4 linked regions of the Homo sapiens genome follow. The protein of the gene in region 1 purifies or fractionates together with the protein of each later gene. This does not show direct contact. Each region holds a gene or a part of one and is shown in the gene's direction. Other genes may lie near its edges. The genes, in order: CCR1, PAG1, GAP43 and GNG10.

Evidence for each region.
Region 2: the proteins of CCR1 (region 1) and PAG1 purify together in Homo sapiens (affinity purification with mass spectrometry; 3 studies listed by BioGRID and IntAct, with this or other methods). This does not show direct contact.
Region 3: the proteins of CCR1 (region 1) and GAP43 purify together in Homo sapiens (affinity purification with mass spectrometry; 3 studies listed by BioGRID and IntAct, with this or other methods). This does not show direct contact.
Region 4: the proteins of CCR1 (region 1) and GNG10 purify together in Homo sapiens (affinity purification with mass spectrometry; 2 studies listed by BioGRID and IntAct, with this or other methods). This does not show direct contact.

Annotation. Positions count from the first base shown.
Region 1 is NC_000003.12:46,201,177-46,205,313, reverse strand, and holds the end of CCR1 (C-C chemokine receptor type 1), read left to right. Parts: intron 1-989; 5' UTR 990-1,000; coding exon 1,001-2,068; 3' UTR 2,069-3,603; downstream 3,604-4,137. UniProt on the Homo sapiens protein: Chemokine receptor that plays a crucial role in regulating immune cell migration, inflammation, and immune responses.
Region 2 is NC_000008.11:80,969,046-80,976,079, reverse strand, and holds part of PAG1 (phosphoprotein associated with glycosphingolipid-enriched microdomains 1), read left to right. Parts: 3' UTR 1-7,034. UniProt on the Homo sapiens protein: Negatively regulates TCR (T-cell antigen receptor)-mediated signaling in T-cells and FCER1 (high affinity immunoglobulin epsilon receptor)-mediated signaling in mast cells.
Region 3 is NC_000003.12:115,619,272-115,626,533, forward strand, and holds the start of GAP43 (neuromodulin), read left to right. Parts: upstream 1-4,238; 5' UTR 4,239-4,418; coding exon 4,419-4,448; intron 4,449-7,262. UniProt on the Homo sapiens protein: This protein is associated with nerve growth. It is a major component of the motile 'growth cones' that form the tips of elongating axons. Plays a role in axonal and dendritic filopodia induction.
Region 4 is NC_000009.12:111,657,353-111,664,632, forward strand, and holds the start of GNG10 (guanine nucleotide-binding protein G(I)/G(S)/G(O) subunit gamma-10), read left to right. Parts: upstream 1-4,252; 5' UTR 4,253-4,282; coding exon 4,283-4,363; intron 4,364-7,280. UniProt on the Homo sapiens protein: Guanine nucleotide-binding proteins (G proteins) are involved as a modulator or transducer in various transmembrane signaling systems.

The DNA of each region.
Region 1 (4,137 bases):
ACTTTCCTCTCCTTCAGGAGGTCTGCAAAGTGACCTTAGATCTACCTGTGCCACCTAAGGACTGTGCAATGTGGGTCAGGCTCAGCCCACTCTGGTGCCCTCAGTGTCCTCATCTCCAAAATAATGGGGTTGACCTACTAGGATTTCACTATGGCAACACCACTGGTGTTTGGGGTAGAATGATCTCTGCACTGTAGGACATCCTTGGCCCTGCCTACCAAATGACGGTAGCATCCCCCAGTTTTGGTGACAACAACAACAAATGCCCACACATTTCCAAGTGCCCCAAGGGTACTAGGTCACTCTCGGCTGAGAATCTTCTTAGACCAAAAGCCATGAATATCTGTTTGTATCTTTCTCTGAGCCAGGACCATTTTCCTTCTCAGAGTCCTCCTGTGGGCTCCACAGTGCAAAGCTACTGCTCGGGGACAGCAGCAGGAAAGCGTAGTGGTGTCAGGGCCGGGCATGAGAATGATGCACAGCTGGGTTGGAGCTCCAGGTCTGTTCTCACAAGAGGTGTGTCCTTGAACATGTTTCCTAACCACTCTGAACCTCTGTTTCATCACCTCTTAAATAAGAACAACAATGGGACCCCTCCAGGGCTCTTTAACCCTAAGTCCAGTGCCTAGGCCATGGGGGTGCTTAGGAAGTGTTGGTTATGAATAGTATGGTAAGGTCTCCCTCTGGCTTTCCACCCATTGAACTTATCCCTTACAAAACTCTTTGCTGAAATGATTGAATTAATGATTTGTGCACTCATTTACTTATTGCTTCCACTCCCTGTTAGACTAAGATTCCTAGAAGGCAGAGAGGATCTGGGTCTCTCTAACACTCCATTTTGTCCCCAGGGCATGGTACACAGAAGGCACTCAATAAACATTTATGGAGTGGCTGAAAAAATGTTACCTCTCCCTTGTCTTTACTGTCCAGTGCCCACTGCCTTTAGTAGCAGAGTAAAGACAAATCTTTTTTTTTTTTTTAACCTGTAGGAGAAGCCGGGATGGAAACTCCAAACACCACAGAGGACTATGACACGACCACAGAGTTTGACTATGGGGATGCAACTCCGTGCCAGAAGGTGAACGAGAGGGCCTTTGGGGCCCAACTGCTGCCCCCTCTGTACTCCTTGGTATTTGTCATTGGCCTGGTTGGAAACATCCTGGTGGTCCTGGTCCTTGTGCAATACAAGAGGCTAAAAAACATGACCAGCATCTACCTCCTGAACCTGGCCATTTCTGACCTGCTCTTCCTGTTCACGCTTCCCTTCTGGATCGACTACAAGTTGAAGGATGACTGGGTTTTTGGTGATGCCATGTGTAAGATCCTCTCTGGGTTTTATTACACAGGCTTGTACAGCGAGATCTTTTTCATCATCCTGCTGACGATTGACAGGTACCTGGCCATCGTCCACGCCGTGTTTGCCTTGCGGGCACGGACCGTCACTTTTGGTGTCATCACCAGCATCATCATTTGGGCCCTGGCCATCTTGGCTTCCATGCCAGGCTTATACTTTTCCAAGACCCAATGGGAATTCACTCACCACACCTGCAGCCTTCACTTTCCTCACGAAAGCCTACGAGAGTGGAAGCTGTTTCAGGCTCTGAAACTGAACCTCTTTGGGCTGGTATTGCCTTTGTTGGTCATGATCATCTGCTACACAGGGATTATAAAGATTCTGCTAAGACGACCAAATGAGAAGAAATCCAAAGCTGTCCGTTTGATTTTTGTCATCATGATCATCTTTTTTCTCTTTTGGACCCCCTACAATTTGACTATACTTATTTCTGTTTTCCAAGACTTCCTGTTCACCCATGAGTGTGAGCAGAGCAGACATTTGGACCTGGCTGTGCAAGTGACGGAGGTGATCGCCTACACGCACTGCTGTGTCAACCCAGTGATCTACGCCTTCGTTGGTGAGAGGTTCCGGAAGTACCTGCGGCAGTTGTTCCACAGGCGTGTGGCTGTGCACCTGGTTAAATGGCTCCCCTTCCTCTCCGTGGACAGGCTGGAGAGGGTCAGCTCCACATCTCCCTCCACAGGGGAGCATGAACTCTCTGCTGGGTTCTGACTCAGACCATAGGAGGCCAACCCAAAATAAGCAGGCGTGACCTGCCAGGCACACTGAGCCAGCAGCCTGGCTCTCCCAGCCAGGTTCTGACTCTTGGCACAGCATGGAGTCACAGCCACTTGGGATAGAGAGGGAATGTAATGGTGGCCTGGGGCTTCTGAGGCTTCTGGGGCTTCAGTCTTTTCCATGAACTTCTCCCCTGGTAGAAAGAAGATGAATGAGCAAAACCAAATATTCCAGAGACTGGGACTAAGTGTACCAGAGAAGGGCTTGGACTCAAGCAAGATTTCAGATTTGTGACCATTAGCATTTGTCAACAAAGTCACCCACTTCCCACTATTGCTTGCACAAACCAATTAAACCCAGTAGTGGTGACTGTGGGCTCCATTCAAAGTGAGCTCCTAAGCCATGGGAGACACTGATGTATGAGGAATTTCTGTTCTTCCATCACCTCCCCCCCCCCGCCACCCTCCCACTGCCAAAGAACTTGGAAATAGTGATTTCCACAGTGACTCCACTCTGAGTCCCAGAGCCAATCAGTAGCCAGCATCTGCCTCCCCTTCACTCCCACCGCAGGATTTGGGCTCTTGGAATCCTGGGGAACATAGAACTCATGACGGAAGAGTTGAGACCTAACGAGAAATAGAAATGGGGAACTACTGCTGGCAGTGGAACTAAGAAAGCCCTTAGGAAGAATTTTTATATCCACTAAAATCAAACAATTCAGGGAGTGGGCTAAGCACGGGCCATATGAATAACATGGTGTGCTTCTTAAAATAGCCATAAAGGGGAGGGACTCATCATTTCCATTTACCCTTCTTTTCTGACTATTTTTCAGAATCTCTCTTCTTTTCAAGTTGGGTGATATGTTGGTAGATTCTAATGGCTTTATTGCAGCGATTAATAACAGGCAAAAGGAAGCAGGGTTGGTTTCCCTTCTTTTTGTTCTTCATCTAAGCCTTCTGGTTTTATGGGTCAGAGTTCCGACTGCCATCTTGGACTTGTCAGCAAAAAAAAAAAATAATAATAATAATAAGGCCTGCTGTGTAAGCTGACAGTATTTGTAGCTGATAGGGGGTTGGGAGGAAAGTGTCTACTAGGAGGGTGGGGTGAGATTCTGTGTTGATGTAGGAGGCCGAGAAGGCCCTTAACTCAAAGTAGCTTATTTATCCAAAATGTTCTGGATGCATCATCTCCAACCAAGGACCCCTTATTTATCATGCCTTTGTTCTCTTTTCCCTCAGATGTATATTTCTTTAAAAATAATTTTCCTAATAACAAAACTTATTTCTAAAACAGCTTAAAAATTCAAAGAAAAACCCCAAACACTGACATTACCTACACTTCCACTACCCAAAGACAAAATGTGCCCACTGTGTGCTTTTGAGTGTATTTTCTTTTAGTTTGTTTTTTGTTGGGTGCATATTTATGATAATAACAATGATGGACTTCAATTGTACTCACTGTTCTATTGTTGGTTTTAATTAGCAGCAAGTTGTGATCACTTTCCCAGGTGAATAAATCATTTCAAAGCATTGTTTTTGGTGCCTGCACTGAAGTCGTTGGCAGGGATGCACCCTAATTTACTCCACCTGTTTACCCACTATTGCTTGCACAAATCAGTTCAACCCAGCAGTGATGACTGTGGGCTCCATTCAAAGCAAGCTCTTGAGCCATGAGAGACACTGGTGCATGAGGAATGTCTGTTCTTGCAGGGTGCTCAGCTCAGTGAGCCAGACAGACACAGGGATGCCAACAGGGCCCAGGCAGCATGGCAGGGGGTTGGGGGGACTGCAGAGCTCAGGGTGCCAAGGCAGTAAAAGGGAAGAAGGAATCATCAGTCAGAAGACACCCTAAGCTGACGGGTGTCCCACCTTACAATACAGTGACACCATTGGGCTGACTTTTCTCCTTTTGTGGACACTAGAGCTGCACTCTTACCAAACCACACACCCCCTTCAGTGGGAATTGTGTTCACATGTGGTCTTTGTACAAAGAAGCTGGTGTCATGATGGTCTTGAAAACTTTTGTCTGGGATAGAGGAGGTCATGCCACCTGGGCTTACACCC
Region 2 (7,034 bases), on another chromosome or scaffold:
TGGTTCATCCCAAGGAAATTTTCACACAAAGCTTGGCCTTTGCCCTCAATATAGGTGTTTTAGGATGGTGACAAACCATGGCTGCTGCTTTCTGCCCAGCTCGCCAGTCCTCCCCAAAGAGTTGCGCATCAGCACCTGGGGATCTGGACCCTGCGGGTGAAGGGATGGGGAGGGACGTCCCTGGAGTCTCTTCTGTCTTTGTTCCTTCTTATTTTGGCATTCGATATCAGCAGCCTCTCCCCAAAGTACTTGAAGTCAGTTTTAGATGCTTTATTTTATTTTTCTAGTCAAAAACGTGTTTCCCCCAGTGTTTGAAAACTCGTCCGAATCTTTTCAGTATTTTCCATGAGTATTGTGGTACTTCTAGACTTGTTTAAGCCCAGAACTCATTCCTTCAAAACAGAGAGCCTTAATCTTTATGTTGGGACACAGACCACATATTTGGACGGCAGCCATGCATCCATCGCTGAAGGGCTGTGGACATGAATGTGTATTTCCCATGGTCTCCGCTGCCCACACCAACAGTGTGGCATCTCATAAGTTAACTGCTACCCTAAGGTAATCTAAGATTAAAATGTAAACATTTATTTTTGTTATGTAAGTTTATAAGATGTTTTATGTTCAATGCCTAATTTCTCAAAAGTGCCAGAAAAAAATGTATATTAGCTATTTTGATTTTATGTACAATGATTTATACTCTCCTTTTGAAAAGATACCATAAAGCACATAAGCTAGATCACTACAAGGAGCTGTTATCTTTTTTCTAATCAAGTGTTTAAAACACTGATGGTTTTTAAAGACTCACCTTTTTAAATGGTACTTGGAGCTCCTGATTCAAATTACCTAGACCCCCTAGAGAAATAAATGGAATATACATAAATAATCATTTTCAGTGGTTTATGGTGGGCAATATTGCAATATTTGAAATGGTAAAAATGGAAAGAAGAACAAAATATGATGAGAGGTGGCTGTGAATTATAAACCTCATAAAAGTGTCATAATTCCATTAAGGTTTAATTATATTTTTTCAGAAAACAGTGATGAATTCTGTAGTCCAGTGCTTGCCAATGCAAATTGCCTATTGGAATCTTCTTCCTATATTTTACAAACATCAGTGGCTGAAATAGCTCAGAGTAAGAGCTCAGCCTGGTTTGAATTTAATCATCTCTTTAGATCTTATAAGGCCAGCATTAGGAAACTTGTTCACTTTTCATTTTCAAAGGAGCCTAGTTGAAGTGCTATTATGAGTGTGGGCTATGGAAAGACAGCTTTTCCTACACTGATAAAGAAAAAAAATGAGGAAATTATTTCATCCCCTTGTGACATCTGTGACTTTTTGGATTTAATAATCTTGCTGTTTTTCCTCTTTATGACAAAGAATATAATTGGGAGGATGAAGTGTCTTAAAAATTGTAGAGACCAGCTCACTGGAATGTTTTTCCATCCCTGTATTCATGGCTTGACTTTGTGACTGCTCTACACTGCATGTCTGACATTGCAGAGTGAGCTATGTTGAGGTAAACTGGTTGGTTGTCATTATTTTGCAATCAGCCTGGTCTCTCCCATGAAGATGTCGTGTGCATAAGCACAATCATCACTGATTAGAAGATCACAGCAGAATACCCTTGGATTAGAGAGAAGTTCGTACCTTGCATTTCTCTGAATTCTAGTCTCTCATAAGCACTGCTTTGCTGGATGATTTTCACTGCTTTGTGTTAATGACTTTGAGCGATCTCTCACATGATGGGGTTCTTTAGTACATGGTAACAGCCATGTCATCTTACACACCTAGCATTGTGAATGCTGTAGTGACATCCTTTATAGGCACCTTACAGCTCAAAACTTTTGTTTCATTTCATGCCTTACTTATCAAAAAGGCAGGAAAGTAGGTATGATCTCTAAAGTAAAAAAAAAAAAAAAAAAAAAACTTTTTATAGAAAGCTCATAAATAATCATGTCATTTTGCAATTTTGTTACCAAAATTTCCCCCAAGAGTTTTCAAATATTAGTTCTGCAATGTGGCTATGAAATATGCACTGAAATATACCTTTTAATTTGAGAACCAGTGGTTAGAATAAGCTGTGATATAAAGTATTTTCAGTGTACTTTTAAAGGAACTATAAGGCCCTCCAGCATAAACGCTAAAAGAATAGATGGTAGCACAGGCCATGAGGGCTGGGGGAGAGAAGCAGAGTGAACCTTAGAAAGATGGCTCAGCTATTTGGAGCACTGGATATTTTACTGAAGTTATTTACTGAGGCACCATCACTGTTTTGACTGTACAGTATAGTTTTTCATAAATTTCATCACATTTACTTTGTTCAGAATCTGGGCTTGAATCTTTGAGTTGGACAAAAGCCTATGGTTTCTTTTAAAAAGTTTCATCTTGAGCTAATGCTACAGTTTAAATAAAATGTATGAAAGGTAGTTATCAAAAACAATTTGTATATTTAAAATTCTATTTTGACATCCATTTTTTACAGCGAATTATAGCAGGTTATGTGAAATTTAAAAATAAATTTTAGGAAATTTTTTTATCTTGTAAGTAAGAATTATAAATCTATCTCAGTTAAAAGTAGGATCTTTGTTTTTATTCAGATATTTTGAAAGTTTAGAAGCATTTTGTATGCTACTTTGGTATTTCTTAAGTATAGTCAGCAGGAAAGGGTAACCTGTTTTATGCAAAATTTTTTTAATTTGTCAAATGTTTTTAGTGTGTCTACTTTCTGAAATAGTCTCAATATCCTGTCTGTATCCTAGGCAGATAACTACACAAGAACAAAACGCTATATAGAAAAGAAAATATTTGAGGAAATCTTAAATTCCATAAGAAAGTAATTCTTGCAAGAATGTTGGCTACATATTTTTTTTTCTGTCCTGAATAAATTACATCATTAGGTCTGTTGAAGCTTTTGAAGCTACCACTATTCTTTCTGGGATAAAGGCTAATTACTGATTTATCTGCCCTCAAAATCCCAGAGTTAATTCTAATTGAGTACTAAATTAACAGTAAGTAGTTAACACAGAGAACTAAAATTTAACCGCATTATATCACTGTATATATTTCTCATGATTTTTGCTAATTAGAGCATTTACTTAACCAGTAATAAACTACACACACACACACACACACACACACGTATACGTGTGTGTGTGTATATACTTGGCTCTGACACAACTCTGGTGCTTAATTAGGATATGTTCTATTATGTATTTTGAATGTTTATCCTGCTAGTGTGATGAACTTTTGTTGGAAAAGCAGAATTAGAAGGAACAGTTTTTCAATCAGTTTCATTTGGTAATTACAGGAAAACCTTGAGTTGCTCTAATTTAATTTTTCCAATTAATACATTTAGACTTTAAATTGCATCCGTAATTCTCTTGGCTGAAAAACAGTGGTATTTTAAGACAGTTTTGTTATACATGTGACTTACTTTTGACTCAGCCTGAGAGGAGGAAATGTAAAGAGATAAGAGATTTGGCCCAAAGCAGCAAGAGACTAGTAACCTTGAGCCAGGACGAAGCCAAGACAACGTGACTCCCAAGTAGCAGGAGCAGAGGTCGGTCACCTGTGGCATTCTGTTTCATTCCCTTTTAAAATTATGAGACTTTATAGGCAGTGTAAAACATCAGCAGGCAGCGATGTGATAGGATGTGCGAAAAAGCTGGTCTGATACCATGGCTATAATTACAGAGCTTTAGTTCAATTAGGATTTTGTAAATGAGCAAATGACCTTTTTTTCCAGTGCCCCTTGTAATAGTTAATATGAGTCCATGCAATCTTGTGATGCCATTCTCCTGAAGGTGTTGATTTCTGGTACCCAGCCAGCTTAGCTTTGGCTGCTGGAAGCACAGTAGGTACTGATGATTACTTCCTGGAAATCTTGACAGGCTTATTGTACTGTGTAATGGGGAAAAGTTAAAGTATAATGTTTGGTGTTAATAAATGACTGATGTGAAAATAGGAACATGTGTCTTTAATATCAAATATGGCTTTATTTGCAGTGAAATCTAAATTCCTTATTCTACAGTAGTATTTTCTTGCCCTGTGTTGTATATTTTCCTAAATACATTTTTCCTGACAGTGGCTTTAGGCCAGTTGAACACACTTAGACTGAAAGTGTTTAACTTAAAGAGATCAGTCCAGAAACCATGATAAATTAGAATCTTTATCTGGAATTACCAAATTAAAATTTAAAATCATGGTCCAGAAGAGAACAAACATTCATGGTTTTTTTTATCCTACTGCTCATTTTTAGGTCTGTGTTTACATCTAGTCTCTACTATTTGTGAAGTATGTCATTATTTTTTTCAAGTTCTTCTTTGACTTAACTGAAAAATAATATTCCAAATTCTTAATGTAACATGAAAAGAGAAATACAATTTTTGCTTAAAAGACATTTTTTAAAAAGCGTTCAATTCAGTAATCATTTCTGTTAATACAGGAAGTTTTTTTGGCTTGCCAGTTATATACTGTGGGTATTTTTTAAAATGTGCTACCCTTGGGTTGTCTCATATCACCTTGCGTAATCATGTATTACAAAGGTTGATAATTGTCATTTCTCAGATGTCTGTATGTTACATTGGCAGCAGTAAAATGTTTTAATGTTGTTACCTTTTAAATAATTGTGTTGTATTAACATGCCTCATATTTTCTGGGGAAACTTGAAATATATCTAAACAAAAAAGGTCTGTTATAAATAGGAATTGGCATTTCATTGTTAATGTTTTTTCCTCATAAAAATAGTTACACCAAAAGTGACATATTGTCTATTACATGGGCCCAATCAGTATTAAAGTACTCCCCTTACTCAAAAATATTAAAAAATAATTCATGACACTTAGTAGCATTTTCATTGATTGTTTCAAAAGATCTTCATAATGGTCAAATTGTCCAATTCACAAAAGAGTGAGAAAGTTGTTTTCAGTACTGGGAATTTTTAAACCTTAGTTTTAAGACCAAAAATATCTCTTATTAGCTTGAACATTTTGTGATTACTTTTCCCTCCCCGGATCTAGTCCTTTTAAGGAGTAAGTCTAAAGAATGAGGCCATGAAGTCACTATTTCCTCCCACCTCAGTTTGTCTCCTGGTACTTAGCTGGCCTATCGCTTTGTGTGGCAATACCCCTGGGTCGCTTCCCCACTCAGCCTTCTGTATCTGCTGTTCACAGGACATGCCATTATGTCTTTCCAGTACGGATCACAGTGCTGCCATATCACAGACCCTGCCAGCCGGCACAGAACCATGCCTCGTCACAGCTCTGCCCAACTCACAGGCTGCCAAGATGAGGCCACAGGTCCACCTAGGGCGGCAGATGCTGGTGCTATTTGTCACGACTTTTGCCAAAACATGTACACTGTTGCTCACATCTTTCGTAAGAATGGTTGACACTAAGGGGCCATGGAAAAGCACTTTTAAAAAATTATGTGGTGGAATCAAACTCACAGAGGCAGAAATGTTAGTGCCGTGCTCTAACCAAGTAAGCTTAGTGTTCCCCACAGTGATCTGTATCTGGCCTGAGTCTCCTCAAGCAGCAACCCCCACTGTCCAGCATGTGGAAGGTAGATCCTTATGACAACACCAGACCCATAGTTACCAGGAAAGAAAAAGGAAGCTGAGTGTTGTGAAGGGGAAGAAATCCTTTTTATAAGAAGTAATCATTTTTAGGCCGGGTGCAGTGGCTCATGCCTGTAATCCCAGCACTTTGGGAGGCTGAGACAGGTGGATCACTTGAGGTCAGGAGTTTGAGACCTGCCTGGCCAACATGATGAAACCCTGTCTCTACTAAAAATGCAAAAAAAATTAGCCAGGCATGGTGGCATGTGCCTGTAGTCCCAACTACTCAGGAGGCTGAGGCAGGAGAATCACTTGAACCTGGGAGGCAGAGGTTGCAATGAGCTGAGATCGCAACACTGCACTCCAGCCTGGGCGACAGAGCAAGACTCCATCTCAAAAACAAAAACAAAAAAAAAACCTTTTTAAAGTAAATTGAGTGTAAAATGTTTTCACCATGAAGCCATTGCACCCTCTCCCCCAGGAAACAGTGCCTAAGGATGATGTCAAGTTACAGCCAGTTTGCTCTGATCCCCCAGGACCTAAGAAAACTGTGAGTGCTTCAGCATGCAAAGGTAGAGCTACCAGATAAGGAGAATAACTTGGCCATTTATAGCAAACTGCCTGACTTTGGAGTGAGAAACCAAGCACCTTCTAGGTCCTAGGATAGGTGAATTGGAGGTGCAGCTGCTGAAGTTCCCATTTTCTACATACTTCAGGAGCCAGGGTGTTTCATTTGGTTTTGTAAAACTTTGCTGTAAGTCATCACAGTTAATTCTTTGAATGGACATTTTAGAGTGTAACTTTTTTTCAAAATTAGCAGAACAGATATCTCTGCTCATTCTCTTTATACATTTAGTTTTTTAAAGTTCCCCTAGTATACCTGTTAGGCACTCTAAATAGGACACAGTTAAAGCTAAAAGAAGGACCAGTTGCTCCCTAGAGCCTACAGTTCAGAACTATCTTGTTGTCATGTCCTGGTTTGGTTTGGTTTGTTTTTAACTCAACAAGTTGGAAACCATGAGTTTAAAGCAAACTATTTCCTTTTCTTAAGCTTAAAGAGAATTTTTTTTTTAATCTTTAGCTCCTCATTTAGGTAGTGAAGGCTTCCCTGAAAGACAGCAGTGCCCTTCTCTGGAAGAAGAGGCTGGGACCAAAAGCCTGAGTCTATGGGTTGAGGATTTTGAGCATTCCTTTGACAAGCTTCTATGTATTTTTAATATAAGACTCATAAATGAACCTGATGTGGTGTTCATGACCCATCCCTTAAGCATGCTTGCTTTTTTTAACTTTACTTTTTGAGTATAGTACTTGTCTTGTTTTTCCTGGAGCCATGCTAGGATTTAATTCCTATGTGCCACTACCCGCCCATGTCCTGGAAGATGGCCATGCCTGCAGCAATGCTCATGTCTTGAGGAGAAGCAATGTGAAAAGCATCAGGAAAGCTGAACCTTACGTTCAAGTCAGCAAACATTTGTG
Region 3 (7,262 bases), about 69 Mb from region 1:
TTGACATTGAATCATATTTTGTGCACACAGTGTTTGCTTTGCTTTTCATGTACGTGTGACTTTCCTTGAGGGAAGGATGATTTTTGCAACATAGAAACTATAGATTAAGTGAATGAAAACAGCAAGTATGGACAGAGAAAGCAGGTGTTTGGGTTGAATTATGTCCCCCTTATTTGCAAATTCATATGTTGGAACCTAACTCCCAGTACCTTAAGATGTGACTGTATTTGGAGATCTTTAATGTGACCCTTTACAGAGAAAATTAAGGTGAAATGAGGCCATAGGTGTGGGCCCTAATCCAATTTGATTGGTGTCCTTATGAAGGGGAGCTTACGATACACAGGGACAGAGAGCAGAGGTGCACATGCACACAGGGGGGCAACCATGCCATGTGCAGAGGCAGCAGAGGGCGGCCAGCTGCAAGTGCAGGAAAGAGGTTTGGAAAGGACCTTCCTTTAGGACTCTCAGAGGAAACCAACTCAGCCACCAGCCTGATCTTGGACTTCCAGACTTCAGAACTGTCAGAAATTACATTTCTGTTTTTTAGGCCACCCAGTCTGTGCTATTTTGTTACGGCAATGCTAGAAAACTAATGCAGCAAGTAAAAGGCTTAGATTAAGCACTGAAAAAATAAGAGAAGAGGCCGAGGTGAGAGGATTGCTTGAAGCCAGCAGTTTGAGACCAGTCTAGGCAACATGATGAGACCTTGTCTCTACAAAAATAAAAAATAAAAAAAAAATTAGCCAGGAGTGGTGACGTGTACTTGTAGTTCACAGAAGGCTTGTGTACTCAGAAGGCTGAGGTAGAAGATTGCTTGAGCCTAGGATTTCAAGGTTGTAGTGAGCTATGTTTGCACCACTGCACTCCAGCCTGGGCGACAAAGAGAAAACCTGTCTCAGAATAAAATAGAATAAAATAAAATATAAAATAAAATTTAAAAAAGGGAGAAATAAGACTAACATCTTTTCTACCTGAATTGATGACATTGTCTTCTCTCAAGTACCAGCCATAATCTTAAAATGGTAGACTATTTTACAGAGCCCTTAGTAAAGGTCAGTGACTTTTGGTTTTATTATACAAGCAGTATCACTTTAGTATAAAGTTCAAAGAGATCTGAGCGTGGAACTGGGATCTGGCCTCCACCACTCTTCATCTTTTTCTAGAATGTTATTATTGTCTAACCTATAGTCAAGAAGTTAATTGATAGTATTATGAGTTAATTTGCTAATCTAAAATTGTAAAAGGGTTAGCCATGGGGCTTAAGCCTATGCATTGTCTAGGATTAGTTATAAAGTACAAGGATTAGTGGGTCTATTGTGTATTTGCTTGGCAAAAATCGGGACATCGGTTATTTTATTTTTTATATATTTTTTGCAAAGCTCATATCAGTTTGTGCTTGTCTCTCCCTTATTCTTTTGCCATCCATAACCACCATTGCTTAGAGAAAAAGATGCATTAGAATTGATTCCATGTTATTCAAATTAAATTTGGAATCTTAGGCTTCCAAATTGGGAGGTAATTTTTAAAGGTTCATTGACAGAATGTAGTATGTCCAGAGGAAGGCATCCAAAATGGTGAGGACCTTACACACTGAGACACCTGAGGGTAGTTGAAGGAGCAGACATCTCATCAGAAATACATAGAGGGCTCTCTATTGCATGAAGATATCAGCTTATTCTCCATGGCTCTTGAAGTAAGAGTTGGGCCTAAAAGATGGATCTTGCTGATTTCATTTCAACATTGAATGCTGATTTCATTTCAACATTAAAACTTCCACTATGTAGTTTAATCTCTTAAGGACTAGAAGTAATGAAGAGTAGAGGCCTATTAAGTGGTGATTGATGTAGCCTAGTTGTTAAGAGACATAGAGTCCTAGCTTTACTACTTCTTAGTTCTGTGACTTAGTCAAGGCACTTAACTTCCCTTAGCTTTAGCATCCCCATCAAAATGGGATTACTACTTGTGCCTACCTCATTTTGAGTATTAGATAAAATAATGCATGTAAACTGATGAGGAAGCTGATTCTGAGCTGGGTGGTTTCACATATTTAGTCACAAAGTTCATCAATGCTTGTGCCCAGTTTTAAGCCCTAGCTTGTTTAACTTCATTATGCCACTTTGTTTCCAAGGTTCCTTCCCATATATAAAGGGGGAAAAATATAAATGGGATGGCTGAGGTGAGTACATCGAAAGGGAAAGGAATTAGTCCCACTCTTTAAGTTTGGCCACATAGTTAATGAAATGGTCTTATCAATGGAGTTATCCTGTTTAAACACCAAAAGGTGCAATTTCTTCTCCATCATCCCCAATCCCCACATTCTCTGCCTCCTCCCTTCATTGCTCTTTAGCCACTAGCAGGCTAGGTAGGGTGTTCCTAATCTGCAACCGGAATGTTTCTGGTAGGAGCCATTTCTCACCCACTCTTTGTCCTCTTTTATCACTTAAAATCACGGAAGGCTGTTCTGAAAGCGGCTGGGCTCCTTGTAACATTAAAAAATTATTAAACTCAGAAACTAATTCTGTTTTTTAATCATAAATATGAAAACTAGGAAGCAAACTGAGAAGAATGAAAGACCAAATCAGCGGATCTGAAGCAGGCCACTCTCAGGAAGACTCCTGAGGAATAATTAAGGCTAATTTTAAATATCACCTCCTGGGTATCATCATCACCATCGTTCCCAGGTACCTGTCTGAGATAGTCCATTTTGAAATAGATATACCTTAAATTATGTTAAAATGTACTAAGCACTTATTGAGCTCAGTGATCCTGAAATATGCCTAACAATAAGCTGCCTAGTTGCCACTTATTAGCTAGGTTTATGTCTAGGAGGTCTAGGAGGGACTATGAAGAATATGAGCTGTTTAATTAGGGGTACTTGTCATCACTAATGAACAACAAGAAATAGTTTGAAAACTTCTTTGAGATATTCACTTGCAAATGTCACCCGAATTTCAGAAAAGTACAGTCTCTGGAGTAAAGCTATTATACACTCAGAGAGACTGTTGTGCTTTGCATGCGTTATATCATTTAGTCCTCAAAACATGTTGTCAAGATTGGCATTATTATCTCCATTTTAAAGATGAGAAAATTAGGTGCAAAGAGCTTCAGTAACACACTCAAACTCATTCAACAATAAATAACTAAAAATTGTGCTATACACACTTTAAGAGTCACATGTTCCTCCCCCAAAATTATGAAAGGCCATAGAAGGAATTCAAGAAGTAGGCTTCATGACTTATCGTTTCTTCTCATCTCAGATGAATTCACTTTAATCTCTCATGCCCAAATTGTAAAATATCATTTTGATCACCGTCAATATTACACAGACCTGTTTGAATGTGCTCAGCTTTTTCAGTAAAATTAGAAGAAACCACAATTTACAAACAGGTATATGTGCATTAAGGAAAAAACAAAAAACTACCATGTGATTTTAGATATGGATGCCAATTCTTAAACATTGTTTATTATTTCTGAGCTCAAGTGCTTAGAATGTTTAAAATGCAATATATTTATGTGGATTTTTTTCCAGGATATTGGAACATATATAAAATATGCTTGTGCATATCTAAGCTTTGTATTTATTTCAGGTTATATGTATACTGAGAAGAATATATAAACAGTGTATGATATTTACATGTTATTTCATTTTTTGAGGGAAATTAACCTCCACAATTATTAACTATGCATAAAATGTAATGGCAGATATGACTTATATTGTATAGGACTGACTACAATTCCTCTTTAGAAATAGCTGTTCTTTGCTTTTATAATACTAGGAAAAGAGGAAAAGAGTTCTTAAAGAAATACAAGGATTCCTCAAGCCCCTCTTCCCTAAAACATGCTCTATCATATCTCCTGGATTGACTGGAATATCCTTCTCTGCCCCCACCCCATCACCCTCTCAATGCAGTGGAAAAGTCGGTGGGTAATTGGGTCCAGATTGGAGGTGTTTAAATATTCATGAGGCTGGCAGGGGACTGGGAGGGGGCGACTGTCTAGAATGGGGGTAGGGGCTGGGGGAAGTGATTAGTCACTGAAGGCTAGAGAACAATTCCGAGAAAGAGACGGAGAGAGAGGGAAGAAAAAGACAGATAGATAGATATTGGGGGGAAGGAGAAAAAAGGAGAAGAGAGGGAAGAGAGGACAGCGGAGAGAGAGCACCAGAGAGAGAGGGAGAGAGAGAGAGAGCGCTAGAGAGAGGGAGCGAGCATGTGCGATGAGCAATAGCTGTGGACCTTACAGTTGCTGCTAACTGCCCTGGTGTGTGTGAGGGAGAGAGAGGGAGGGAGGGAGAGAGAGCGCGCTAGCGCGAGAGAGCGAGTGAGCAAGCGAGCAGAAAAGAGGTGGAGAGGGGGGGAATAAGAAAGAGAGAGAAGGAAAGGAGAGAAGGCAGGAAGAAGGCAAGGGACGAGACAACCATGCTGTGCTGTATGAGAAGAACCAAACAGGTAGAGCTAAAGATTTTTTACTTCTTGCTGTTGTGAAATAACCCGAGTACAGTATTTCCCCGTAAAGGCAAACAATTTTTTTACTGCTTCTGCTCTGGCCGTGGTGCTCGCGCTTCCTTAGCATATGGTAACTGATGGTTGCATCCCAGCTTTTATTCTTTTCTGTCTTTCATGCTCTGGTTTTGGAATGCTGCTACTAATTAGGGTGAGGGTAGAAAAAACATGCCTGTTTGGCTAGAAATAATTTTTTTTTTTCTTATTAGTGAATGCTCAGCATTTGAGGTCTCTGGTCTTGAGGGTGTGGACGTAGAAAGGGGTGTGGGGGAGATGATGTGGGCTCTACCTACAAGATGGGGAGGCATTTCTTTATATTATTTGCAAAAAAGCAGGGTTGAGGAAATAATATTCAGAACTGAGTATTGCCTCTCTGTCATACAATTTTCTCACATGTGCTGCGGAAGATGCCTTATTTCGTGCATGCATGAGCTTCGAAGGGGCGCAGGTATTTATGGAAAAACGTGCAGGTCTTATTTATTTAGTATTTATTTTTCAATGAATGAATGAAACTGTGATTTGATAGATTTTTTTTTTTTTTAAGAGAAGCTAAGACAACTGGGGCTGGGGGAGAAATTGGCCATGCAGAAGGAGAAAATCCCCTTCCTAAGATCAGCAGCCGATTGTGCACCAGCTGGTCGGAGGAGAGGGTGGACCACGCCCCTAGGAGCTCCGATGGGATGGGAAAGACAGCCGGGTATTACCTGTTGGAAACCAGGTCTTTTCTCTTATCCCCTTCCCTTGCTTCTTTCCTGGGATTGTCAGTGACCAGAGACAGGCTAACATCCTGGATAATAAGTATGGTGACTCATTTTCATCAGGAAGAGGGACACATCCAAGATTAGCAAGAATCAGAGCCCCTCCTTCCCTCCCCCACTGCCCAGGTTTTACAGCCATTTCCAATTGCTCGCTTATTTCTTGAAAGACATTTTAGAAACTTGATTGGGGTGAGAGTGGGAAGGAATGACGAGTGTGGTATTCCGCAGCAACCGACCATGCCATGGCAGTCTCCAAAAGAAGCTTTCAAACATTTGTTGGAATGCATTTGAGTGATTTTGGCAAAGGTTAAAGAGAAAAATGGGTGTGGGATACGGGTGAGTGTGTGCGTATGCTTGACTGTGGTGGGGGTGGGGGTGTGGTGGGGGCAATCTTGGTCAAAGAAGCCCTTCGCAGACTGATTGCCTTAGGGGTGGGGTGCAAGAGATGGAATTTGGGTATAATTTCCAGTGCAGGTATTGGAAATTGGGCAATTTGTAATACACTCCCTGAATCCGAAGGGGGTGGAAGAGAGTGGAGAAGAAACAGCCTGCCAGCTTAGCACATTTAGCCAGCGCCCTGGAAGGAAGGGTGGGGAGTGAGGATGAAGGAGAAGGAGCAGGAAGAGGATGGGAGACTGAAGCAGAATGTCAGAGCAGTGGGAGTAGAGATTTGGCATAAATAAATAAATAAATAAATAAGCAGACATCCTGGATTGTGTGGGGCTATTTGGGGGAAAAAGTCGGATAGTGGGGGATTGAGTTGGGGGCGGTATTTGCAGCATCTCCTGAAACTGCCCTATGGTTACAGAGATTGATGCTTCCATTGGCTCATTTTATCAAACCAGGGCATTTTCTCTCTGTGTCCTCCTTCATTTTAATATATAAATGTAATAAATACAGGTGTCTGGGTTAAGAACACTGTCAAAGAAAAGTCCTGAGGTTATTTCACTGGTGAGCTGGGGAAATAACATTTAGGAAGGTGGAGCACTAAGTAAGCCAAAGCCATCCACTTAAAAAGCTTTAATTTTGGAAAGAAAAATATTCAGGTTCATAATTTGTTCCCACCCTATGTGTACATATGCAAGTATACATACATCTCCTTTAATAAAGGAAATCATGTATGATTTTTAGAAAAGGAATTAGGGCTAAAGGAATTCCCTTCCCAAAATGAAGACAGCTGCCTTCCCTGGGGCTCTATCTCACCAACAGCCCCAAGCATTCACTCTGATGTGCAAAGTGATGAAGCTGAAATTGTGTTTAGAGTTGTAGAAATTCGCATGTAAATGTATACAGCATCCACATACTTCATATGCTACAGTTGCATGTGTAAGTGGTTTCCACATGCCTCTCTGTGTTTTAGCATCATTTATATTCAAGAGAAAATTAAAGGTATAGAAATTGTCCTACTTTGCTCATGCATTTTATAAATGTGTACTTCTGTGTGAAATGGTCATGTCTCTTATAAACCACTGTTGTGTATCATTCACATTAGCCAGTATTTAGGATACCATTCAATCAGACTAAAGGAAATGGTGTATTCAGGGCGTGGGCTCACACTACACTGACTGGCATTTATGTAGCATGAGTACTTAAGTCTCACGCAGGTTGCCTGCTTGTGGATGAAATTCTGTATCATTTATGACAAAATCCAGTGGTGCCCATCCTTCTGCTGGCATCTATTCATCATCGTAGTACTTAACAGGGAATAAAACAAGGGCAAAAACCTGCAAAGGTCTAAGCTCTGCCACACCCATAAAATCCAGCAGAAACGTGGGAGGGGGGCTGAAGGGCTTGCACTTCCTTCCTCTTCCACTTGAGCGGCATAAAGAAGCAACCTTGGATTTCTAAGTTGGAATACATTGCCAGTGGGTGAGAAGAAAGCATAAATGATCTCTATTAGCCATTAGTTATCACTATAGATTATTATAGCAGGAAGAAGAGAATGAGAGTGGGGTAGAGATGAGAATATGGTAAAGGAGTGGGCAAAGGAGGAATAAAATAA
Region 4 (7,280 bases), on another chromosome or scaffold:
TTACTTTAACCTGTGAGCCTTGTTTTCTTTCATGTAAAGATACTATTTCAGACAGTTCTTAGACGATAACAAGGGTAAAATGCCTGGCATATATTAAGTGATCAGGAAATGTGAGTTATTTTGCCTTCAGAGGGAATAACAAAGAGTCTCATTTGTTAAAAAAAAAAAAAGCATGGTAACAGGAGTGTGTTTTGTGATGATTACAAACCCATTGTTTATTCTTTTAATACATATTTTAATCCCTTGTGCAAGGCACGGTGCTAGAGTGAAGGAGTGATGCTCCTTAGGGTTGGAATTGTGTATTTTAAAAAGCAGCTGCCTGCCCTGTTGCCACCAGTGTGCAAGGTGGAGCAGCCGAGATGACGACTCAGGAAAGAAAGAAAAACTTTCAGAGATGACAGAATGATCAGCAAGTTGCTAGTCTAAGGCCTACATTTAGTGAAGGGACATTTTCAATGTAGCAAACAGATATGCTTAGAATGGTTGCTCAAAAAGACATCTAATAGCCCTAAGTTCTGCCGTCTCCCAAAGTCTCAAAAGTACCTGTGAAAATCTCTCCAGAAAAGCCATTCTGAATCTACAAACCTGCTGGTGATTCTTTCAGCTCCTGATTCATTATTTCTGGGTTCTAAAAATAATGTAATAGGCAAAAAGAAGTAAAATAATTTTTATAGTACATGATACTGTGTCACATTAGATATAGTTATTAATGTGTTTTCCTACTCTTAATCATTTTGGAAACTATAGATGGTATATATTATTGTCATTTTGATATAACATTGGCAGAAATATCTTCCCATTATGTCATTATTTTTATGGAGAAGATTGACTCACAAACCCCTTTCCTGGAAGAATAATCCACTGTTAGTAGACAGGTGATAAAATACAAGTCAGAGGAGTGAAGAACTGTAGCTCCTAACAGGGAAACAAATGAAACATTTGTCATTACAAGGGTAATGACATTTCTAGAAAGTTTCTTGGAAATGAGATAAGTTTGTGCTTAACCAGGGAAAAAAATGTGTGACAAAATTTGAAAGATATTCTACTGGTTACCCATGCATTTTAGCTGTAGTGAGAAGGAAAGAAGGGTACTCTGTCTCCATCCCTCACCTTCCAGAGCTCTGGAAATCACAGCACATGTGGGAAAGGCCTCTGGTCCTCTAGGTAAACCTTGAGTTCTTTGTTTGAGACGGAGTCTTGTTCTGTCGCCCAGGCAGGAGTGCAGTGGCGCAGTCTCACTGCAACCCCCACCTCCCGGGTTCAAGCGATACTTGTGCCTCAGCCTCCCAGGAATCTGGGACTACAGGCATATGCCAGCACGCCCGGCTAATTTTTGTATTTTAAATTAGCCAGGCGTGGTAGAAACCCCGAAGAGACGGGGTTTCACCATGTTGGCCAGACTTGTCTTGAACTCCTGACCTCAAGTGATCTGCCCGCCTTGGCCTCCCAAAGTGCTGGGATTACAGGTGTGAGCCACCGCGTCTGGCCTGAATTCTCTTGAAAGCTAAAATGAAATTCTTTTCCCTGCTCCCACTTTCTGTGATACTGGGCAAGTCACTTCACTTTCCTTAGTGGATCTGTTTCCTCATCTCTGAAATTGTAGATGCGCCGCACTATCTGATGGTTCCCTTCAACTTTGAAGTTCCATGATGCAAAAATAATGGATGAGAAGTCTTGTGGGGAAAGTGTGGAGCATCACACAGATGGTCAGCCTTCCTCAAGTACAAGTGGCGCCCGGCCTGCTTATCCATGGATCACAGACCATTCCTCTTGAACGGTGCAAAGTAACACTGAGGTGGGCGGGGCAGTGGGTGTGTAGGGCATGAAGGAGGCAGACACAGCACACCCCTAGACTTTTCCTGCTACCTCGTGGCTGATACAGTATGACATGGCTGACGTGTGTCCCTTCATTGAGGGCAACTCCAAAGCCTTCATTTCTAATGATTTTGAGGTAATCTCATTATTTCAGCTGCCATTGCTGTGGAGACATCTTCACATTAACATCTTGGCTACTAAACATTTTCAGCAGCCTAAAGGCATGTAGCAATGCCATGGAAGTCACTTCGTTACTCCTAAACCAAACCCCACATTATTTTTTACTCATCTCAAGCCAAGTCTTGTTTCCTAATTTCTGTTTTGGCATTAGTTCTGGCCCACTCTCTGCTACAGAACCCTTTGTCCTCTTTTCTTTGCATTTCATAACCACCATGAAGTACCACTGATTTTGTCTTCTAAATTTGTTCCCCCTCATTCCTACTCTAACAGTCCTACCCAGGGCCTCATTCCAGCTACTCCCCCACCATCAGCCATTTATCTTCTCAACTTCAGTTCATTTTGCACATTCATCTCAGATTAATATTCCCAAAATGCCTTACCCTGTGGCTATCCCACTGTTTACCATAAACTTTTGTGTGTATGTGAGGTTTTCTATGACTTCTGGCCCTAGCAACTTTGTATCTGCTATTAGTCACTAGAGCTTCCTCTATTTTTAAATTTATTCACTCTACATGTGTGCATCGCCTCCAGCTGTCCTCCATACTGGACTGTTCTTCCTTCTGAGCCATCTGCAAGACACGTATCTCCAAAGTCCAGCTCTCACGATCTATGATGAGCCTTTCCTAATCCAGTATGTATATCTTTGCACTGAGTTCTTTGCCATATCTTTTAAATATGAAATCATTCTATTTTGTCCTATTCATCAGTCTCAGAATTGATTGTTGAATGTTCCCAACATGTACTTTCATCTCTTTACTAAGATATATATTAATTTCTTTGTGGTGAGGAAATTGGCCACTAGAGAGGGCTTTCAAATGTGCAAGTCTCCCTTTGGCCCAGGCACAGCTAATCTGAGCACGTCAATGCCACACATCCTTGCCTTCAAAGAGTAATTGGGCCAGGGGTGGGCCCATGACTTAATACCAGCCAGTGAGGTTCATTATGGGGATTTTTGCTGGAACGATTAGAAAGAAAAGAGGTACTATTTTTCCTGGGTTTGCTAGATGGGGACAGTGAAAGTGTGGTGCCTTCCTTCATACCACTAGAGAAGTCCATCTACCACCAAGGAAAATGAGGCTAATCTCAGGAAAAGCAGAATCAAAACAAGGAGGATGAGAGCCCCAAAATTATTATTTGGGTAATTGAATTCACTAGTTTAAAGTCCCTGGACTTTTCAGTTACACAAGCCAATATATTACCTTTTGCAATATTCAGTTTAAGTGAGTTCTGACAAATACAATGGTGTACAAGAATAATGACGTATTAATGATACATGGAAAAAAGCAACACAAAAATTTTAAATATAGTAACGATCCCAGTTTTGTAAAACACTTATTAAAAAATGCAGTAGGCCTATAATGCCAGCACTTTGGGAGGCTGAGGTGGGAGGATCACCTGAGCCCAGGAGTTCAACACCAGCCTGGCCAACATCGTGAAACCCCGTCTCTACTAAAAATACAAAAATTAGCCGGGCGTGGTGGTGTGTGTCTGTAGTCCCAGCTACTCAGGAGGCTGAGGCAGGAGGATCACCTGAGCCCACGAGGTGGAGGCTACAAGGAGCTGTGATCACGCCACTGCACTCCACCCCGGGTGACAGAGCAAGACCCTGTCTCAAAAAAAAAAAAAAAAAAAAAAAAAGCAGCAGAATAGAAACAATGATGACAGTTAAATGGTGAGATGAGAGTGAGAAACGCTGAATTTAATTTTATTCTGTATGTTTCACAAAGATGTCAGGGTCTGGGATTTTATCCAATTTACCATACTCCACCAAATCAACTGGTAGGATCTCCGTGAAACAGTAACAGGGTCATTTAGAAACCTGTTGCTGCCTCATGAAAATCCTATGAACTCTCCTTGGTTCCCCGGTGATACTGTCTGGCAAGGCCCCTTATCTCTCCAACTCATGTCACACCTTGGCTCCAGTTCTCATTTCTCAGGGGTGCGTGTTTGCTGCCGCCCACTCCATCCTCGCGTCCCACGCCCTCGCGATTCCTGCTCATCCTAGGGGCGCCAGCTTCGCTGGAGGACGCCGCGCTCTGCGGGTCCCCGCCTCGGTTCCAGGCCCAGCTGCAGGTGCCACCCAGGTTTCAGGCGCTGAGGAGCGGAGAGCACTGCCAGCTCGCTGGGGTCCCCGCTGTCTCTGGCAAGCGGCTCCGCGCCGGGTGGGCTGGGGCGGCGGGGCGGGCGCAGCTGCTTCCCCGCCCCGGGGCGGCACCCGCGCTCGGGGCTGGCGGCTCCTCCCCGCCCGGCCGGGCCCAGCAGCCCCTAGGAGCCCAGCGCCGCCGCCATGTCCTCCGGGGCTAGCGCGAGCGCCCTGCAGCGCTTGGTAGAGCAGCTCAAGTTGGAGGCTGGCGTGGAGAGGATCAAGGTGCGGGCCCCGGGTACCCACGCTCCGGTCCTTCCGCCCGCGGGGCGTGAGAAGAGGAGGCCGGCGGCCCGGACCGGGCGCCAGCGGGGGACTCGGTGGCGGCGGCGAGGCCTCGGCGGGGCGCGGGGGCGGTGGGGTCCGCGGTGAGGGAGGGCGCGGGGCAAGCCGGGGGCCCGGGCCTGACGGGAGGAAGCCGCGCCTGGGGGGCCCCGCGGTCGTGGTCGGTCCCGGTCCCTGGGGGTGCGCCCACTCCAGAAGGCGGCCGTGGTCAGTTCCTCGGAGGGCGCAAGGGATGCCGGCGACGCGCGGGCCGGGAGGGTGGACCCAGGGCTGGGGAGGCCACCGCAGGGCGGCGAATTGGTGATGGATTGGTAGGATGAGAGCGAGAGGGAGGAGAGCCAGGATGCTCGGGTTTCTGTCGTCGTGACAGGGTGGACGGCGCTGCCACCCGCCGAGGTAGAGAGGAGGGGGAACAGGTTTGGGGAAATGATGAGTTCGGCTGCGGACCTGGGGACTCCGGGGAGTCATCCGGGAGGTATTTGTCCTCATGGCCTGAAGCTCAGCGCCCAGGGCTGAAAGAGGTCATTCAAGTGCATTGGGGCGAAAAAGCCTCTTCTATGAAGAGCAGAGCTCAGAGCCTGGGACCCGGGGACCAGCCACACCGATGGCCGGTGGCCGAGAGAAGAGGAAATAAGAGACAGCAAGGTTTCCGAGCAAGGCCTAGAGAAGAGGAAATAAGAGACAGCAAGGTTTCCGAGCAAGGAAGTAGGGATTTCCAAAAACTGGGGGCTCAGTCAACATGTCCAGCGTTTAGTCAGTTGGCTAAAAGGCGTCTGTTGTAGAGCTGTGTTTAGCTACGAGTGCAGCATTATTTGCAGAAGATCTGTAAGAAGGAACACAACCAGGATAGTCCCTGTGCCTCAGTTTCTCCTTTGCTGTGTGCCTGGCACTGCTACAGGGAATAGGGTGGTTCTGGAGGGGAAGGTAAACAGCAACTTAACGGATACATAGCATCGCTTCATGTACTAAGTGGAGTGAAGATAATAAACAGGGTAAAGGGAGAGAGGGCTGTGGAATGCAGAGGTCTGGTGGCTTATGTGTTAGTAAAAGCAGAATCTGGACTGTCATAGGGTAGGCAGACGTTTTTTCTTTTTAAAGAAACCTAGTTTTAAAGAGGAAATAACGTGTTTTTTTAACTTAGGAAATGAAAAGCCATGTTTTAGGGTTGAGAGGAAGTAACAAATTATATTTTTAGGTTCCAGGGAAGAAACAAATGGAAGCCAATTGCTGGTAGAGGAGACAGGGCTACGGGGGGGTGGGGGATTGGTGGCACAGCTTCTGAGACAGGAAGAAAGAAGGTAAGGGTGTGTGTAAAGATAAGTTTCTAGATATGGGCTAAACTTGTATGGTGACACTTTTCTTTGTGAAATAGGAGGCCAGGTTTTCTTCTAAGGCAGAGGAAAGGGGACTAAGGGAGTGGCCCCTGAGCAGGCACGCAGATGCGCTGTGACTGAAGACCCAGCTGCTGTGACAAGGGAGACTGCTGGTCATATTTGTGATTTTTTTTTTTTCCTGCAGCAATCTTTACCATCCTGGAATGTGAGTGCTGAAGGTGAACGGTAGTTGAAAGAGGAGTAAGTTAGCAGGGGAGGTATGCCAGAAAGGTGGAGGTGGGGCCGGAGGGCAAGGCGTGTGAAGGTCTGGCCAGAAAGAGGCTGAGCCTAGATGGATAGAGAAGGAATGCAGCCAGCCTCCTGGTGATAGGTGAGACAGAAGGGGAGGAGGTGATGCCTGGTGATCTCGGTGAGGTCAGAGCAGAATAAAGGAAGAATAAAGGAGGCAGCACCCTGGATGGGAAGGAGAGATTGTGATCAGAGAGTAGGATACTGGAGTGTAAAATTTCAGAAGTGGAGCAGTTACAGGTGTTGTAACTGTATCTGTTGGCATTGAGGAGAAGGCTGTTTGAGGGGAAGAAGTCAGGGAACTGAAATGAGGGTTGTTGGAAATTCACAAAGACAATGTGGGGACATGAGGTAGAAAGGAAAACTGTGAGCCAGTCAGATGCCTGTCTACCCGCCAAGTAGCTAAGAAAGAGGAAAGATATTCTTTTTTTTTTTTTTTTGAGATGGAGTTTCATTCTTGTTGCCCAGGTTGGAGTGCAATGGCATGATCTCAGCTCACTGCAACCTCTGCCTCCCAGGTTCAAGCGATTCTCCTGCCTCAGCCTCCCGAGTAGCTGGGATTACGGGCACCTGCCACCACGTCCACTAATTGGCTTTTTTTTTTTTTTTGTATTTTTAGTAGAGATGGAGTTTCACCATATTGGCCAGGCTGGTATCGATCTCCTGACCTCAGGTGATCCTCCCGCCTCAAGCTCCCAAAGTGCTGGGATTACAGGCATGAGCCATGGCACCTGGCCGGAAAGATGTGCTTATCTACCTTTTAAAAATGATGATGAAACTGAGAGCCATATAATTCAGGTGAATTGCCTGAGCTCGCAGTAAGCTTATTTACAAATAGGATAATAAGCCTATTTAAGAGGTGCGCTCATGGAAGTATGATCTGGGGTACTTGGCAGGGCTTCCCTCAGACAATACCTTAGAGAGTCACAACCATTCCAGGGTCTGGTCTACCTCACATCCTCATTCATTGTTGGATGTGCTTAGCATAGCCAGAGGTGTCTTCTCTTTGACAGACTTGCTATCTGAAAAATAAACCAGGACACCAATTTTCTAGCATATAATAGAGGACATCCCTTCCCAGCTATAGGAATGCTTGGTATCCTTCCAAGAACTCCTCCTTTAGAGGAGCCTCACAGAAGTTGCTGGGTAAACATGGGCTCAAACCAAGGAAAGTCAGGTAACCTGGGTGGAGGTTATCCCACCACCAATGGCAGGGGACAGCTTGCAAGTATTTG